Linked DNA regions of Homo sapiens: region 2 is linked to region 1. The links come from fine-mapping of genetic effects on gene expression. A gene starts in region 1. The other region holds a variant in brackets. All regions are shown on one strand. Distances are between the middles of the regions.

The links. PIP is the estimated chance that this variant, and not a neighbour inherited with it, causes the effect.
Region 2: its variant is the best candidate, but not a certain one, in a credible set for the expression of NEURL1 in subcutaneous fat (GTEx, PIP 0.53).

The regions. Positions count from the first base shown.
Region 1 is chr10:103,489,636-103,497,958 of GRCh38, forward strand. It overlaps NEURL1 (neuralized E3 ubiquitin protein ligase 1), which reads left to right and starts at 4,070. Exons shown (of 6, transcript NM_004210.5): 1 at 4,070-4,837. The coding sequence starts at 4,753. It overlaps NEURL1-AS1 (NEURL1 antisense RNA 1), which reads right to left. Exons shown (of 4, transcript NR_120675.1): 3 at 4,926-5,100. RefSeq lists silencers at 980-1,049, 4,279-4,428, 4,439-4,568, 4,649-4,748 and an enhancer at 4,415-4,964.
Region 2 is chr10:103,569,574-103,577,896 of GRCh38, forward strand. It overlaps NEURL1 (neuralized E3 ubiquitin protein ligase 1), which reads left to right. Exons shown (of 6, transcript NM_004210.5): 2 at 1,299-1,540; 3 at 1,928-2,249. Among named protein-coding and RNA genes, the nearest start is that of NEURL1-AS1, 56 kb to the left of the region's middle. RefSeq lists an enhancer at 1-226. The variant T/C (reference allele first, on the strand shown) is at 4,522.

The DNA of each region.
Region 1 (8,323 bases):
GTCCAGCTTGGCCTAGAGGCGCCCCACTTTTGTCTGCCTGAGGAAAGGTCATCACTCTGGTTGGTTCTGAACTCAGTATCCAGAGGCTCAGGGAAGGGAGTAGACTCTCAGTTAAATATGCTATTATTTTATCAACGCGGTAACTCTTCAAGACTTGAATGGATCTGGAAGCTATGGAGAGAGAGAAAGAGGAAGGGAGGTAGAGAGAGGCGAACCAGGCAGGAGCGGACAGCCAGGGTGGGAAGAACAGAGGTTGCAAGGAGAGAAAGTGACCAGGGTGGGAAGAAGCAGAGAAGGAAGGGCAGGGGGAAAGACGAGAGGGGGTGGGAAGGGGGTAGAGAGTGAAAGAAACCAGCAAGGGCCAGGTGCGGTGGCTCACTCCTGTAATCCCAGCACTTTGGGAGGCTGAGGCGGGCGGATCACTTGAGGTCAGGAGTTAGGGACCAACCTGGCCAACACGGTGAAACCCCATCTCAATTAAAAATACAAAAATTGGCTGGGCACGGTGGCTCATGCCTGTAATCCCAGCACTTTGGGAGGCCGAGGCGGGTGGATCACGAGGTAAGGAGATTGAGACCATCCTGGCTAACACGGTGAAACCCCATCTCCACCAAATATGCAAAAAATTAGCCGGGCGTAGTGGCAGGCACCTGTATTCCCAGCTACTCAGGAGGCTGAGGCAGGAGAATGGCGTGAACCCAGGGGGCGGAGTTTGCAGTGAGCTGAGATCGCGCCACTGCACTCCAGCCTGGGTGACACAGCGAGACTCCGTCTCAAAAAAAAAAAAAAAAAAAGAAGGAAAAAAAATTAGCTGGACATGATGGTGTGTGCCTGTAGTCCCAGCTACTCGGGAAGCTGAGGTTGGAGAATTGCTTGAACCTGGAAGGTGGAGGTTGCAAGATTGCAGTGAGCTGAGATCGTGCCACTGTGCTCCCACTGGGCAAGACTCTGTATAAAAAAAAAAAAAAGAGAAATCAGCAAGAAGAGAGCAACAGGGAAGGAAGGGAAGGTGGGAGTGGAGCTGCTGTTGAAGGAAGCTTCCTCAGGTCCCTGCCTGGGGCCTCCCTCTCCTGCATGCCTGTGTGTGCACTCACAACACCTACGCATGCACATACAAGGACACAGGTGTTCGCGAAAGTGCACACGTGTGCACTGACACCCACCCCCTCAGGCACTGCCCGCAGAATCTGCACTGCTGGGTGTGTGGGTGTTGCCACGGTGACTGGTGCTGGAGCATCACCTTGTGGGTATTAATAGCTTCCCCTGAAGCCATCAAAACAGTGACTTCATCAGCCCCAGTCTCCCTGGCAGTTTCCTTCTTCCTCTTCCCTTCCAGGATGGGTCTGGGAAGGGTCTTCTGGATCAGAGCCACCACCCAGGCACCCCACCCCTATGAGCTGCCTTGGGGAAGGATGGCAGGAAGGCCTCTGAGTTCTGCCCAAGGTCTGGGGGTAAGGAGACTGCTGGCCTTCTTTAACCCTCTGAGCTGGGTCTACCCTAAGTCCCTGCCAGGGAGGAGTTGCTGGGGCACAGGACTCCTCAGAAGGGCCACGCTCAACTTCTCTGAGTCCTATGCAGCCACACCAACCTCCTCTAGGTCCCTTCCTGGCCAGAGACCTAGTTGACTCTAACAGTGGTGTCCCCTCTTCCAGTACAGAGCTCCCTGAAGTACTAGGGTGAAGGTAGAGAGGGGCCTAGGGCGTGAAATATAAGAGGACCTAATTCCCAGGCTCGCGCAAGTGCAAGCTTGGTATCTGCATGAACTTGAGAGTTGGCGCCTTCTTCAATTTTGCGCCAGGGATGCCTTGGCTACCTCATCCTATCCCAGCCCTATTGATACTCCCATCAGCTCCTCAACCCTCAGTTCCCTGCCTTTGTCCCTGACGCCTCTCACCTTCCTTTGGGACTCCCTGGGATCACGCTGCCCTGAACTGCAGAACCTGGGCTGCCTCTGGACTCAGGTGAGCATCCGCCTCTGGCCTTCACTTCCCTCCTTCCCTTTGACGTCTTCCTCTCTCCCCTGCTTTGCCCATAGCCCCAGGTCTAGGCCATGTGGGGCCTGTGACATCCCTTTGTCAGGCGCGGTGGCTCATGCCTGTAATCCCAGTACTTTGGGAGTCCGAGGCAGGTGGATCACCTGAGGTCAGCAGTTCAAGACATCCCTGCTGTGCTCTACCTTTGGGGCCTCATCCCCTCCCCCATTCCCCTGCCCACACCAGGCTTCCCTGGAGCCACCGTCTGTAAATCCTAGCTAGGCCCTTGTACTTCAAACACACTCTAGCAGGATGAGTCTCAACTATGCAGAGTCCTCATATTTGTTCTAACTTGTGAAAGGCCTGATTCTAGTGGCCACTCACAGTGACTTCATTCCGGCAGATTTCAGGGGGAATATAAGTGTGTGTGCTTGTATAGGTGTGAGTGTGTGAGATAGTGTAGCGGTGTGTTAGCACATGTGTGAGTGTGTTGCCATTAAGAGCCTGTGGATTTCTGATGCATGAGTCATTAGCTGGGAGTGAGCCTTGGGAAGATACTGCCCATAAATAAGACAGCCATCCCTGACCTGCTGTGGCCATCTGCAGCTGCCTGCACACGTGATCCTGGGCATCTGGGAGGCTGGAGGCCGGGTTCGGGGCTGCCTTTCCCTCCAGATTCCAGAGAGACAGTGGCTGTCACAGATATTTCTAGCTTGCCTGGAGTCCCAGACATTTAAGGGTAGAATGCCTGGAATGGGGATGGAGAGAGGAGAGTAGGAGAGGAAAATAAAGGGTGGTTCAGGAGGCTCTGCCCCCAGGGATCTCAGTGGAGCCTCCTGGCCCACAGTGGGAAGCATGCATTCCACAATTATTTTCTGAGAATCTGTCACATGCCAGGCATTCCCCCAGTGGGTAAGGACACCCTGGTGAACACGACTGACCTGTGCTCTCCCCTCACAGAGCTTATGTTCTAGCAGGGAGGCAGAAGATAAACGAGGAAAGGCTACTTGTAAACAAGTTCCATATAAAAGCTATGATGAAAATAAAATGGAATATTGTGGAAAGTGACTGACAGTGGAGGGGGTCCTTTAGTTGGGGCAGTCAGGGAATGTCAGGACACGAATTGTGCCTAGATAATGAGGAGCTGCCAAATGGAGACTTGGGGGAAGAACCTTTATTACAGAAAAGGATACATGAGATGTCCCCCTGCCCACCCATGTCTTCACTGGACTCTGGATCTGAGTTGCTGAAGCCAGAGCAGGGAGCTAGAGATGACTTAGAGGAGCAGGAAGTCTGATTCCCTGGGGGGAACCTTGGAACATCTTCCATCCCTGATAGACCAGGAGAGATGCCCCGGGTCCAGGAAGGAGAAGAATGACTTCTGTTTCCCTTCCTGAAGGCTTCTTGGTGCAGTGTTGAGCTACAGGAAGGCACTAGCCACATGAGCAGGGCCCTTGCTGAAACCCCCTTCCTCCAGGAAGCCTTCTTTGACTGCCATAGGCTGCAGAGGCTCCTCTCCCCCACCTTGTTATAGCTAACAGAACCACTCAGTTCAGAGCTGGTGGTCTTCTGATGATCTGTCCCGGAGATCTGTTCCCTCAGCTTGGCCAGAGCTCCAGGCTTGTGAGTCTGGTCCGCGGGCATTCAAAGGCCCTCAGTGGCATCTGTGCATCAGTGAGACTGCCCGGGGTTCCTGCTCTGAACCCTTGCCCTAGTGCCCCTAGCCTGGCTGAGAACGGAGGGTCAAGTGCCGGGGTTCTAATCTCAATTACTTTATCCAAGCATCCGCTCGCTCATTTACATGTTTCCCTGGGCTCTCCACTCTGCGCCAGGCCCGGTACCTGGAGCTAGGGAAACCGAACATTAGTGCTGGCTCGCCCGCCCCCGCATCCGGGGAGCTCGGCGTTCTCGCGGCCCTGCTCCCCTTGTTTTCAAGTGCAAGTTCCATGTTTCCGTGCTGGGAATAAGGCCAGCCCCGGGTGCCACCATACTCGCCTGATGTCTTACCCCGACCCGCGCCGCCGAGAGCTTGCGGCTACGGGAACGCGGCGCGCCCCGGGGCCACATCTGGCCTAGCGGGCGCGCGCGTGTCACTAAGACGCTCATTCACCGGCGCAGCTGTCACCATAACAACCGGAGCGAGGGAATCCTGGAGACTGCCGGGGCGGGGGGCGGGGGCGGCGGTCGCAGGAGGGACCCGGCGCGGGCGGGACCGCGGCGGTCGGGGGACACCAGCTGCGTCGGAGCGCCCAGAACGCCCCGCGCTCCGCCGAGCCCCGCTCCACGCAGACCCGCGGGCGGGAGGGAGCCACGCACATCGCCGCCGCGGCCGTCTCCGCGGGGCGGTAACCGAGCCTGCCTCGGAGCCGCCGAACGCCCACGCCAGCGACCCTGACTCTATGGCCCCGGGGGAGCGCGCCGGAGCCGCCGCGCCGCCCACCCCCAGCCGGAACCCTAGCGTCCCGGGGAGCAAGCGGGGAGCCCCGGGCGTCCCCGGCCCCGGCCCAGGGCCCTGCTTGTGGCCCCCGCTCCCGCCACGGGGCATGGGAGGCAGGTAGCCCAGCCTGCGCCAGGACACCCGTGGCGGGCGGAACCCGCCAAGGACCGCGAAGTCCAGAGAAAGGAAGCTGAGGAGCTGCCCGCCCGCCCCCGGCTGCAGCCCCAGCAGGGCCCTCCCCCGGTGGCGCGCACCCGCGCGCGCACACTCGCACACCGCACCTCAGCGCCTGCCCGGCCTCGCCCCCACCCGCGAGCGCCGAACCTCCTGGGGCCGGATGCCATGGGTAACAACTTCTCCAGTATCCCCTCGCTGCCCCGAGGAAACCCGAGCCGCGCGCCGCGGGGCCACCCCCAGAACCTCAAAGGTAGGCTCCCCGGCCGAGCGCTGCTGGAGGACTGGGGCGCAGGTGGAGGGCCAGGGAGGTGTGGTTGGGGAGGGCGGGCAGACGCCACCTGTTGTGCGTGTCTGGAGGCCGGAGATGCACCTCTGGCCGTGGAGTGGGCTGGGGGTGGAGGGCAGCCGGCGATGATGGTGATGGAGGATGGCGTCCCGCGGGGTCTGCGCAGTTCTGTCTGCTGGCACTGGGAACGTCACTGGAGTCCCCTCAGGCCATGGTCTTAGGCGAGCCTGAAGAGATGGGAAAGGATGTTTGCCAGGTCGATAGGGGAGTGGGGAGTGAGGAGGGAAGCTTGGGTCGTCCGTGTCTCCAGGGAGGCACCTCGATGGGTCTCCTTTCCATCGGCCCTAGGGCTGGAGAGACCAGGCTGGGAGCACTAGTTGCATTTCCAATGGGAGGGTTTTAAAAATTCAGGACAGGATTACAGCAGCCTGGAAGAAAGGGTCAGAGCTGCTGGTTCCTGGGGTCCTTTGCAGCCGTTGGGTTTTTGCATCCATTGAATTAGTTTGATTTCTGGTTTTCCCAAAGACCAGATATCCAGTCAGAGCCCTAGAAAAGAGGGTCTGGGAGCCTTGAAACAGAGGGACATTTACTAGGAATGTCTTTGCTCTTCACCTCCCCAGATCCACTCAGCACCCTCAGGGTGGCCCTAGGCCCAGTCTCCCCATTCGGAGCCTGCCATTCCTGTCTTGGATCTTCCAATGCTGTCTCTGACCTTTGGAAGACACTGCTGGGTCCTCCCGGGCCCTCAGACCCTACTAAATTCCTTCCGGAAGGTGCTTTTCTGTCACCTCAGAACCAGTGGCACTTGTCCTGGGCATGATGGCTAAAAGCCAGGAAGGGAAGCCCTTGGGCTTTCAGAAAGAATACCCCACTTCCTAAGCTCCTCAGGTTATGAGAAGGATAACAATAGTGCCCTTTAACACAAGGCATCGAACTTTCTCAAACACATTTTCAGTGAGCATGGACACTGCTTGGGGTAGTCAGCAGAGCAGAGCTAATCACACTATACCCATTTTACAGATGAGGAGAACCAAGGCTTGCTTCAGGTTCCCAAAGCCAGCCAGACCTCGGCGCTAGGTGCTAGGCTGTAGACCCCTATCTTTTGACTTGGAATTCTGTCCCTTCTTTTGCTGAACAGTTAACTTTTAAGACCAGGGAAGAGGAGGAGAGATAGGACCACTGTCCTGCATTCTAATACTCCAGCTCTTTCAGAACTTCAGCTTTCACTTGGCTCAGGAAAATCAGTGGATTTGTTGTGTCTTTCTGGAAATTAATATGGCAATACATGTCAAGATACTTTAAAAATATCAATTTGTTGGCAGGGTGCGGTGGCTCACGCCTGTAATCCGAGCACTTTGGGAGGCTGAGGCAGGTGGATCACTTGAGGTCAGGAGTTCCAGACCAGCCTGGCCAACATGGCGAAACACTGTCTCTACTAAAAATACAAAAATTAGCCGGGCATAGTGGTGCGTGCCTATGATCCCAGCTACTTGGGAGGCAGATAGGCAGGAGAATCCCTTGAATCTGGCAGATGGAAGTTGCAGTGAGCTGAGATCGTTCCACTGCACTCCAGCCTGAGCGACAGAGCGAGACTCTGTCTTGCTAAAAAAAAAAAAAAAATCAGTTTGTTGACCTTGTAATTCTACCTTGAGGAATTGATACTAAGGAAGTGGAGATGCAGGAATATATACTTATGGCACTAGGCTAGGATGTTCATGGCAGTGTTATTTATACTAGGTGGATAACCTAAATGCTCAGTAATCATGGTATATATTCTTGGTAGAGTACTATGCAGTGATTACAATTATATTTGTGAAGAATAGTTGATGACTGTGGAAAATGCTCACAGTATAACGACAGAATACAAAGTTGTGAAGACTGTATGATCCCAATTTTGTTTAAAAAGTGGTGTGAATGCAAAAAACCCCAACAAAAACAAAACAAGCAAAAATGCTTGTAAAGTTTCCAAAGGGTTAACAATTATTTCCTCTGGGTATAGGATCATATGGGATTGCATTTTTTCTTTTTTATATTTTGCTCTTTTCTAAAATTTCTATAATAAGGAAGTATTATTTTTGTAATCAGAAATAAGCTATCAGTGTTAGCAAGTATGAAGACTGTTTCTGAGCATTGGAAACAGATTCCTAATGAACCTATGAATATCGTTCAGCTCAACCTTCTCTGCAAGTGAGAATAATGAGGGAAAAGAATAATTATTTGCCCAAATTAAAGTGGCAAAACTTGGCCCTGTCCTTCAGGGGGCAAGGGTTAGCTGGGGGCAGGGGTTAGTTGGCCCTTAATATTCACAGACTATCTTCCTGAGAAGGTCTTGCTCCATCCTTGACTCTGTGGAAACCCAGAGAGCTCCCAACTAATTGCATCTTTTTAATCTAAAATTTGGAATTGTGGGGATCTGAGGTCTCTGTGGCTAGGGTCTTTGGCAGAAGGCAGGAGTGGGGGCCCCATCCACACACCACTGTAGGTGACCATGGGAATTTTGATCCCGCCCCTACTAAGCCTGAAATGAAGGACAGAAGGTACCCATGAAGGCCGCCAGTTGTTGGCTCTGTCCTTCACCCAAGGTCCACTGATCCTCCTTCTCAGCTTGACTTCTAAGGACTTCTTCCCGTCTTTCTACCCTAATAGAGCCATCACCTTTATTCTGTAATTGTTTAGTGTTTATTCCCAATTCTCTTCTAAATGTATCAGCATTGACCTACGAGTCTTCTCTGGTATATCAGTGGTCAGCCAGAAGTTCATTCTAATTGTGTTGGTGTTGACCTGATAGGCTGTGATGCTAACTGCCTAGCCAGAGTTCTGCTGGGATGGCGTCTGTACTCAGCTTGAATTCATCTCTAATTCTTGTCAGTGCTCATCCAGAAATTTGCTGGGAGTAGGGGTGGAGTGACTGTCTTGATTTTTTTCTCTCCTTACATAATTTCAGTCTCTTGATTCCTCACCATTTTAATTAAAACAACTGGAAGGGACCTGGTATAATGGGGATCCTGGGACTGATTGGAGATCTAAGATTGGTCTGGCTGTTAGGCTGACATGACATGGGACATGGGACCCCACCATCGCCTCTCGGGTGATAGACTTTGGTCTTCTTCCTGGGAACACACTGACCCCACTCTGCTGCTGGTGATTCCCACTGGGTTCTGAACAGCGTTGGTCTAGGAGTGTTCAGGGGAGAGGTCCACGGTGTAGCTCTGGGCTTAGAACCAACAGGCAGTGCCCGAGGAGCTCCCATGTGCCCAGCTCAGAGATAAGACACCCCTGGGCTTTCCCAGGCTGGAGATCTACTCAAAAGGCATGGATGAGGGAGTGAATGGAATCAAGTGTTTGCTTGGTTGTACTGTCGAAACCCAGATATGTGGGCAGAGGTCAGACAAGGGGTATCAGGGGAGGATCTGAGCTGGACATGGAGGGAACTGCAGGAACTGGACAGAA
Region 2 (8,323 bases), 80 kb after region 1:
TCCCCTTCCCTGAAATGGCTTCCCCTCCTCTGCACTATCCAGAGGCCATTCAGCTTCTTCCAGGCAGCCTTTCCAGACTGTCTGGGGCTCTTCTGAGCATTTCCAGCCCTCATAGCCTGACCGCTTCCAAAGCTCTTGCGCTGCCCAGCCATTCCCGTCTTGTCTCCTTGGTGAGGACAAGGTGAACTCCTCCTCATGCCACCCTCTCCTAGTGAGCCTGGCAGGCAGGAAGCTGCTCTAGAGAGACCCGGGGGCTCATGCACAGGGTGTCTGGCTGGCCTGGGGCTTCGGAGACTGCTGTCTGGGGCCTCTGGAGAAGCGGGGATTGGAGATGCAAAGTGGTACAGAGGGATGCAGACCAAAGCCAACACAGAGGGCTGGGCCTCTCCCTCTCCCTTTTCTTCCTGTCTTCCATCTCCTTCCTGGAAGCTGCTCCTCCTCCTCTAGGGAGTGAAAGGGTCTGGGGAGGCAGGCCCAATGCCGAGCTCTTTGCATCATTAAATTCCTGCCTTGGAGGACCAAAATTTGAAACATCCCAGAAGGCCTCTGTCACATTTTGTGGCTTTCTACGGCTCCACCCTCTTCTCCATTCTTCACGGTTCTGTTTCCCCACGATGACAGGATGGGCGGGCTCTACTTGGGCATGGATCTTGGGGGCCCCACCAGAGTCCCCAGCCCCTGAGGCTGTGTATTAATTAATGCTGCCTGTGCTGCTGAGACTTGTCTTGGAGCCACAGAGTAGAGGCCGCCCATTGTGCCAGAGAGGGAAGTGTTGTCTTCCCCAAGGTCACAGAGCCAGTTAGTGACAGCCCCGAGGACAGGATCCATGTATGTTTCATGTCTGTGTCTCCAGTGCTCAGGACAGAGCTTGGTATTCAGCAGATATGTCATAAATATTTATTGAATAAAATAAACAAACCAAGGATGGTGGAGTGCCAGTGAGTGGTGGTAGAGGGTGGTAGTAAAGGTGATGTGCTACCATGGTAGGTGGTGAGAGGCAGAGGGTGGTAAATACTAGTGGGGAGAGGAGGTGGGAGAGGGTGGGGGTGGGAGGTGATGGAGAATGCCGAGGTGAGAAGTGGTGGATAGTGAACCAGTAGAGCATGGTGGCAGATGGTGGAGTGGGAGATGGTGAGAGATGGTGGCAGAAGGATGGTGGCAAGGGGTGGCGGCAGTGGTGAAAGAACTGGGCTCTGGGTGACTTCTGGTCATGCCCAGCCTCTGCCCTTCCCTAGGGGACTCTGGTCTGGCTCTTGGACCCGCCAAGTTCTCTGACACCGTGGCCTGTTCCTTTGCAGACTCTATCGGGGGCCCCTTCCCCGTCACTTCTCACCGATGCCACCACAAGCAGAAGCACTGTCCGGCAGTGCTGCCCAGCGGGGGGCTCCCAGCCACGCCGCTGCTCTTCCACCCGCACACCAAGGGCTCCCAGATCCTCATGGACCTCAGCCACAAGGCTGTCAAGAGGCAGGCCAGCTTCTGCAACGCCATCACCTTCAGCAACCGCCCGGTCCTCATCTACGAGCAAGTCAGGCTGAAGGTGGGCCTGCCCCCTGCCCCCGCCCCCGCCTCCTGCTTCCTGCTCCCCTCATGGCATCCCCTGGGCCTCTGGACTCTGCCCCTCAGCCGCTGCCTGCTGCCACCCCCAGCACCACACCCTGCCCCTGCCTTTCCTCTCTGGTGACCCTCTTCCCTCTTCCTTATGCCTTTCTCAACCTCCCTGTGTGACAAGGAAGGAACCGGGAGGGCGGTGGCCGTGGGAACCCCTTGCTGTCTTCCCAGCAGGGAGGGCTCCTGGGAGGGAACTGTGCTGGAATGGTGGGCAGGCTGCTGTGGGATGCTCCAGGGAGTCCACCGCAGGGAGGCTGCCCTTGGTCTGATTGACCAAGTGGGAGAGGGTGGGCTGAGGCCACCCCCTGCCACCCAGATCACCAAGAAGCAGTGCTGCTGGAGCGGGGCCCTGCGGCTGGGCTTCACCAGCAAGGACCCGTCCCGCATCCACCCTGACTCGCTGCCCAAGTACGCCTGCCCCGACCTGGTGTCCCAGAGTGGCTTCTGGGCCAAGGCGCTGCCTGAGGAGTTTGCCAATGAGGGCAACATCATCGCATTCTGGGTGGACAAGAAGGGCCGTGTCTTCCACCGCATCAACGACTCGGCTGTTATGCTGTTCTTCAGCGGGGTCCGCACGGCCGACCCGCTCTGGGCCCTGGTGGACGTCTACGGCCTCACGCGGGGCGTCCAGCTGCTTGGTGAGTGCCTGCCCCTCCGGCCCCTTGGTGCAGGGGACACCCCTCAGCCTCTGGGCACTGCAGCCTGGCACTGTTCAATCCCATCAGGCGTAGGGACCCCTCTCTGACTGGTGCCAAGGGGAACCGGGGCAGCCCTGGGAACCTTGGCATGAACTGCAGAGATCTCCTTTCCTCCAGGCCCGTGGCTTTGCAGTGGAACCTGGGTGTGATTTCTGCTCTCTGCAGCCTCTCAGGTGGTGCCTTGGGCAGTATGCAACCTTCACAATCATAAATGGTGACCTCAAAGACCACCACCCCAGGAAGTAATTAAATTAATCATCACAACCACAGTTCATAGAACACTTACTATGTGCAAGGCACTTGATTCTTGCCTGTTCTCATAGCAACCCTGGGAGGGAGACCCCTTCATTGGGCAGAAACTCAAGTCCAGGGAGATTACATCATGGTCCCAGGAGCCATGGCCGTTGAGGGGTAGAGCCAGCCCTGAGTCTCCAGCTCTAAAGCCAGCTGTCAGCCCCTGGGCTTTGCAGCCTTCCAGGAGACGGGGTTCCAAGCCCACCCCAGTGCCTTTTGCAGGGATGTTGGATAAAAGGGTAGGATCCAGGAGCAGAAGGCACTGGGGGAGCTAAGACTCTTGGCTGCTCCCTGGCCCCCAGCGTAAGTTAGGCTCTTTGAGGACAGTGAGAGAGCAAGGAGGAGGAGCCTCGGGAAGCAGCCTGGCATGCTCAGGGGCCAGGCTTCCCTGCAATGGCACAAGTACTGGGGCCGGAAGAGGACAGGAGAATCTCCGACTTCCTAGGGTCACACAGTAAGTTGGTGGTTAAGGTAGGACTAGAACTCAGGTCACCTGACTCCCAGCCCAGGATCCTTCCCACCTGGCTCTCCTTGTGCACAGGCACTCAAGTGCATGTGCGCACACATAGACTCTGGGTACAAATCAGGCCATCGGCAAACTGGCTTTGTCTCCAGGCAGAGGCTATGCAAGCCTCAGCTTCCTCAGCTGTGAAATGGGTTGGTGGGAAGATTAAGTTCCATCAGGGAGGCTGTGAGTAAAGTGCCCAGCACAGTCTCGGGTACCAAGTATATGCTCAAGCAACACTTTTTCCTTCGTCTCCCATCTCTACCCGCCTCTCCCTGCAGAGAAAGAGGCCATGAAGGTGGTTGAAAACCTTTTTTTTTTTTCCCTTTCTGACTTCAGAGCCTAGAAACAGTGAAGTTCTTCTGTCCACAACACTTTTGAGCAAAAAGTCAGTGATAGTAAAAACAAAGAAATGAGTCAGAAGCCTGTTTGTTGAGTTCCAAACATCAGGAAGCTGTTTTTATTAGCTAGTAGTTTGGGAACTTTCTGTTTTTCACCTCAACAAAAGTGTTTCTGCACTCACAATGACATGTTAAGAGCCTGGAACTGGGCAGTTCTGGGTCTCAGCGACTGAAGAAGGGAGCCCAGGTGCTTTGCATTTTCTCTGTAAAAGGGGTGTGCCTGCAGCCGGGGGCAGAAAGGGCAGCGTTCATGTCCCTGAGCTACAGAGACCGGCAGATCCTAGCCTCACGCTGTACTAGTTGTGGGGCCTCAGTTTCTTCATCTGTAACGTGGGGCTAAATGCTTTCTCGGGGTTCTTTGAGGAGCAGCTGATGCACAGTAGGGGGTCAGTGGCTGTCATTTGTCCCCACCCATTCTGGGGAGGACAGTTCTTCACTCAGGGCTCAAGTGAATGCCTTGGTGCTGCTCTGGTATCCTCAGGGCCCCACACTTCAAGGCACTGGAGTCCCAGCGCTTGAGTTTGAGCTCTAACCTGACCACTTCTGCCTGAGCCTCAGGCTTCCCACCTGTATAATGGTTGTGAAGGCTTTGACTTAGCCCAGGACTTAACCACATGGTGGAAGACAAAGTCTCTGCTCCTGAGAAAGCCACAGTCTTGTTGAGGGGTGGGCAGGTGAGGGCAGTGGGGCAACATTCTTGCTTTTCCCTAAGCAAAAAGTGGCCTCCCTCACAGTCCCCACTCTGGCTTCAAGGCCAGTCCCAAAGCCCCCTCCCTCCCTGAAACCTTCCTGGGCGGAATTCTTCTCTCCATCTTTGTGTGCCACCAAGTGGTGCTGGTGCTTCTCTCAGTACTGAGCATCGCAGAGCCTTGGTCCGTCCATACGTCCACTTCCCTGCAAGATGGGGAAGAATCCACGTCTCACTCAGTCGGGCTGCTCTCCAGAGTGGAGGCTTCTGCCTGACCTGCAGAGGACGTGGAGGAATATTTGCAGGGTAGGTAGGGGAGAGTAG[T/C]CAGGGGCAGGGTGGGGGACGAATGGGAGGGCAGATGCGTTGTTAGATGAAGAAAACGGCAGGTGGGTGGGGGCCAAGGGCAACCCAGCCCTGCCCACAGATAACCCAGGCTCATTGGGAAGTTAGGGAGATGAAGCAAACACTCCAGACGATGCAAGCGCTCAGGGCACAACCCAAGAGAAGCCAGTAAATCACTAACCGCTGTGGTCATGGGATGCCTTCCATCTGCCGAGATGGTTTCTATCCAGTTATCTCATTTAACCCCTCTGAAGCAGGCCCCACAGGGAGTGTTTTTTATCCCCATTTGGCAGGGAGATAACTGAGGCCCACGCAAGGCCTGGCTTGCCCATGTAGGGATGTGGCAGAGCTGGGACTTGAACTGGGTGTTCTGATGCCAAAAGCAACACCTTTCCCATTACCCTCCAGCTGGTTTAAACATAAAAGGAGGCAGGAAGTCAGAGGAGGCTGAGGTCAGTGGGGGAGGATGGAGGCCAGGAGGGCTTCTTGGAAGAGAAGACTTGGGCTGGGCCTACAAGTTCCAGGAGGGCCCTGGCACATGGGAATGAAGTGGAACACGACAGACGGGCTTCCCACCCTCAGGGGCTGAGGAGGGCTTGGAGAATAATCTGAAGGGCCCATCCTGGGCCAGAGCCCAGGTGGCCTGACCTGGTCCAGCCCCATCCCCCCTGTGACTATAAATGGGTTTGCACGCAGTGTTTTCAGTTGCATTTGGAGTTCCTGACAGGCTCCTCTCTGCACACCCGATAAGGCTAAGGCCCCAGCGGATTCCGTCCCAGCCGTAAATCACCATAATCCCTGGGTATTTTCAAACACTGATTATGGCCCCTAAATTCAATTGGCAGATTGAGATATCCCTTCATTTATTCTTCCTGAATTTTTTTTTTTTTTGGTAAAGAGAGAGAGGGAGACACAGAGATTCATCCAGAGATCTCCTGAGGTGGGCGTGATCTCTCCACCTTCGTTCACTGCCTGTCCTCTGAGATACTCCCCTCTACCCCAGGTAGCCTCAGGATCAGCTTCCTTCCCTGCCTTCTCTTTCCTCTCCGCCCCACTTCCCGCCCCTCCCTCTCTCCATCACCTGCACCTTTACTGCACCTGTATCTTTCTGGGCTTTTCTCTCTCCCTTGACCTAGATCCTCTCACCCTTCTTGCTTTCCCTGGTCTTGGTGTCCTTCTCCCCGCTGCTGTCTCTCTTCTGAAGAAAGTCGCTGTCCATCTTGGTGGCTCTGAGGCTGGGCCAGTCTTTCCTGGGGTGACTGTCCCCCAAACCAATGTCTGATCTTTGGGGATTTTCTGCCAGGCCTGCCCCTGCCCCCTTTGTCTGAAGCCTGTGGTCAAAGCCCTCCCAATCTTACCTGCTCTGTGTTTGTTCCTTAGACCAGAGGCTTCCCAGGGTAGCTGGCACATAGTAGGTAAGCAGGTCAGGCCATGGATGGGTTGTGTCCCCAGACAGAGTGGAGGCAGGGGCTGGTGTCTCTCCCCAGTGGACGGTCCTCCCTGCCCTGGCCAGAATCCAAGCCCACAATGGTGCCCATGCCATGGCCCCAGCAGGCCCTCCTCCCTGTTATGGTGCCCATGCCACAGCCCCAGCAGGCCCTCCTCCCTGTTATGCTGGAGTTCTGCAGATCACCTCTTTCTTTGGGGCGCCCTGGCCCAAGCCCAGGCTGGTATCGTCAAGAATAACAGCTTCCTTCCTCCAGGGAGAAGGACCCGCCAGCAACTAAATAAACACAGGTTTTATGGGGTGATTAATACATGGAAAAAGAAGCTCCTATCCCAGTATCTCAAGGTCTCCTTGCTCCTCTCAGAAATGTCAATTCAGGAAGAGCAGCTGTGAGTCCCAGCAGGACTTGGCTGGCGGGCCAAGAGCCCACTTACAGGGTGCTCCAGAGCATCCCTTGGTGCCTACCACTGCCTAGGCACTAAGCGGGGGCAGGTGGGAGACAGAAGAATCAAAAACCCAGCCCCTCTCCTGGAATAATGTTTTCCCTGGGGGACACATCATATAACTGATGCAAGGTGGCCCAAGTTCAATTCTGCAATCAAGTGTGACCTGAAGAGTAAAACTGTGTGTATGTGTGGGAGGGGAGTGCAGCTAGAGAGCAATCCAGGAGGACTTCCTGTAGGAGACAAGTTTTAAGTCAGGAACTAAGTGAGGTGAAAAGAATGGATTGGTTGAGGAACAATTTAGGTCAGACAGGGGGGTGTCCACAGGTGCAGAGGTGGGGAATTGGCGGTCAGTAGGGGAGCAGATCCAGGAGGGGAAGGAATGAGGTAGAAAGGTAGTGGGTGACTTGTGGAGGTGAGGGGTGTGCACAGGTGTGGGTATGTGTATGCATCACAGGGGAGAGAGCCATGAGAGCTGAAAGCTTCCAGCAGCTTTTGTGCTGTCAAGTTGTTCAGTAAGAGGGACTGGCTGGTTGACAGTGGAGAAGTATGAGACCCAGAGATGGGGAGAGGCCTGCCCAAACTCTCCCAGCTGCTCATCAGCCAGGCCAGGCCTGGAACCCAGATCTCTCAGGCTGATCTGGGAGTAAGGTCAGAGGGAGGAGGCTATCAACACATCTAAATGGTGGGGCTGGGTCCGGGAGGGTTCTAGGAGGGGATGAGGTGGGGGCTCCCGAGGGCTTATGCATTCTATTCCATCCCTTGCCATGCACAGGTTCCCAGGTCTTGGTAAAAGACCCACGCCTGCCTACTGAGGAGAGAGCTGTATGGAGACTCTCAGGATGGGCTTCCAAGGGTCATGTGCTGCTGGGTGGGTTCTCCAGGCCCCCTGGAGATAGGGGCCTAGGTCAGGTCCCCTATCCAGGGTGTGCCTCAGCTTGGAGGTGCTGAGCATGAGTGATCCCCAGCCGAGGACCACACTGCCATCTGGGCCTTCTGCTTCCCAGGCTAAACCAATATTTACCCTCAGCTGTGGCTGCTAGGGGCCAAGAGGCAAATATTAGTTTAAGGAGCCTGAGCCAGCTGTTGGGCTGGGGGAAACAGCTGAGGCTGCCGATCATGATTTCTTCCTCTTTGATGATTTTCATTTCTTTTTGATTAAGAAAAAAATCTTGCTTTTCCTTCTGCTTCAGAGGGTTTTCTGGTGCTTCCTTTCTGCTTACCCCAAATTCTGCCAGCTATATCAGTGCCCCACACCAAACCCTCCCCTCCATTAGGAAGCTTTCCCAGACCTCCCTCATTCAAAATGACCCTTCCTCCTCCTGACCATCGGAAGCACTTGGAGACCTAAGTGGTATAAGCAGCTTTGAGTCATGTATTGTCCTGCTCTTTAAAGATCCAGCATATATCCTCTTTGTATATAAAGGAAGGTATTATTGTGCCCATTTTGTAGATAAGGAACAGAGGCTGAGAGAGGTCTGATAACCTGCCCAAGGTCACACAGCTGGCAGTTGGTGGAGCTGGGATTTGAACCCAGGAGCTTGGGCTACATTACCTTCCAGCTTCTCTAGATGTGAGTCCATCTGATCTCCCTATTAGGTCTGGATACCCGACAAGAGCGGGGACAGTGGCCCTCCTGTGCCTTCCAGAGTCGAGCTTACAAGAGCTCAAGGCATCAAGGATCAACTGCACATGTTGGGCACAGATAGGCCACCAGGGCCCCAGCAGTGCTGGTACAAGGAAGAGGGGCAGTGCAGCGCCCAGGATGCCAGATTCAGTGGGGAAGGTCGGTCTGCCTGCCTTATAGTTCCCCGGAGGCTCCCGAGGGCTTTGTCTGGTTCAGTTATTCCTGTGCACTCTAGTTTTCTACCACAATGAATATATATCAAGTTGA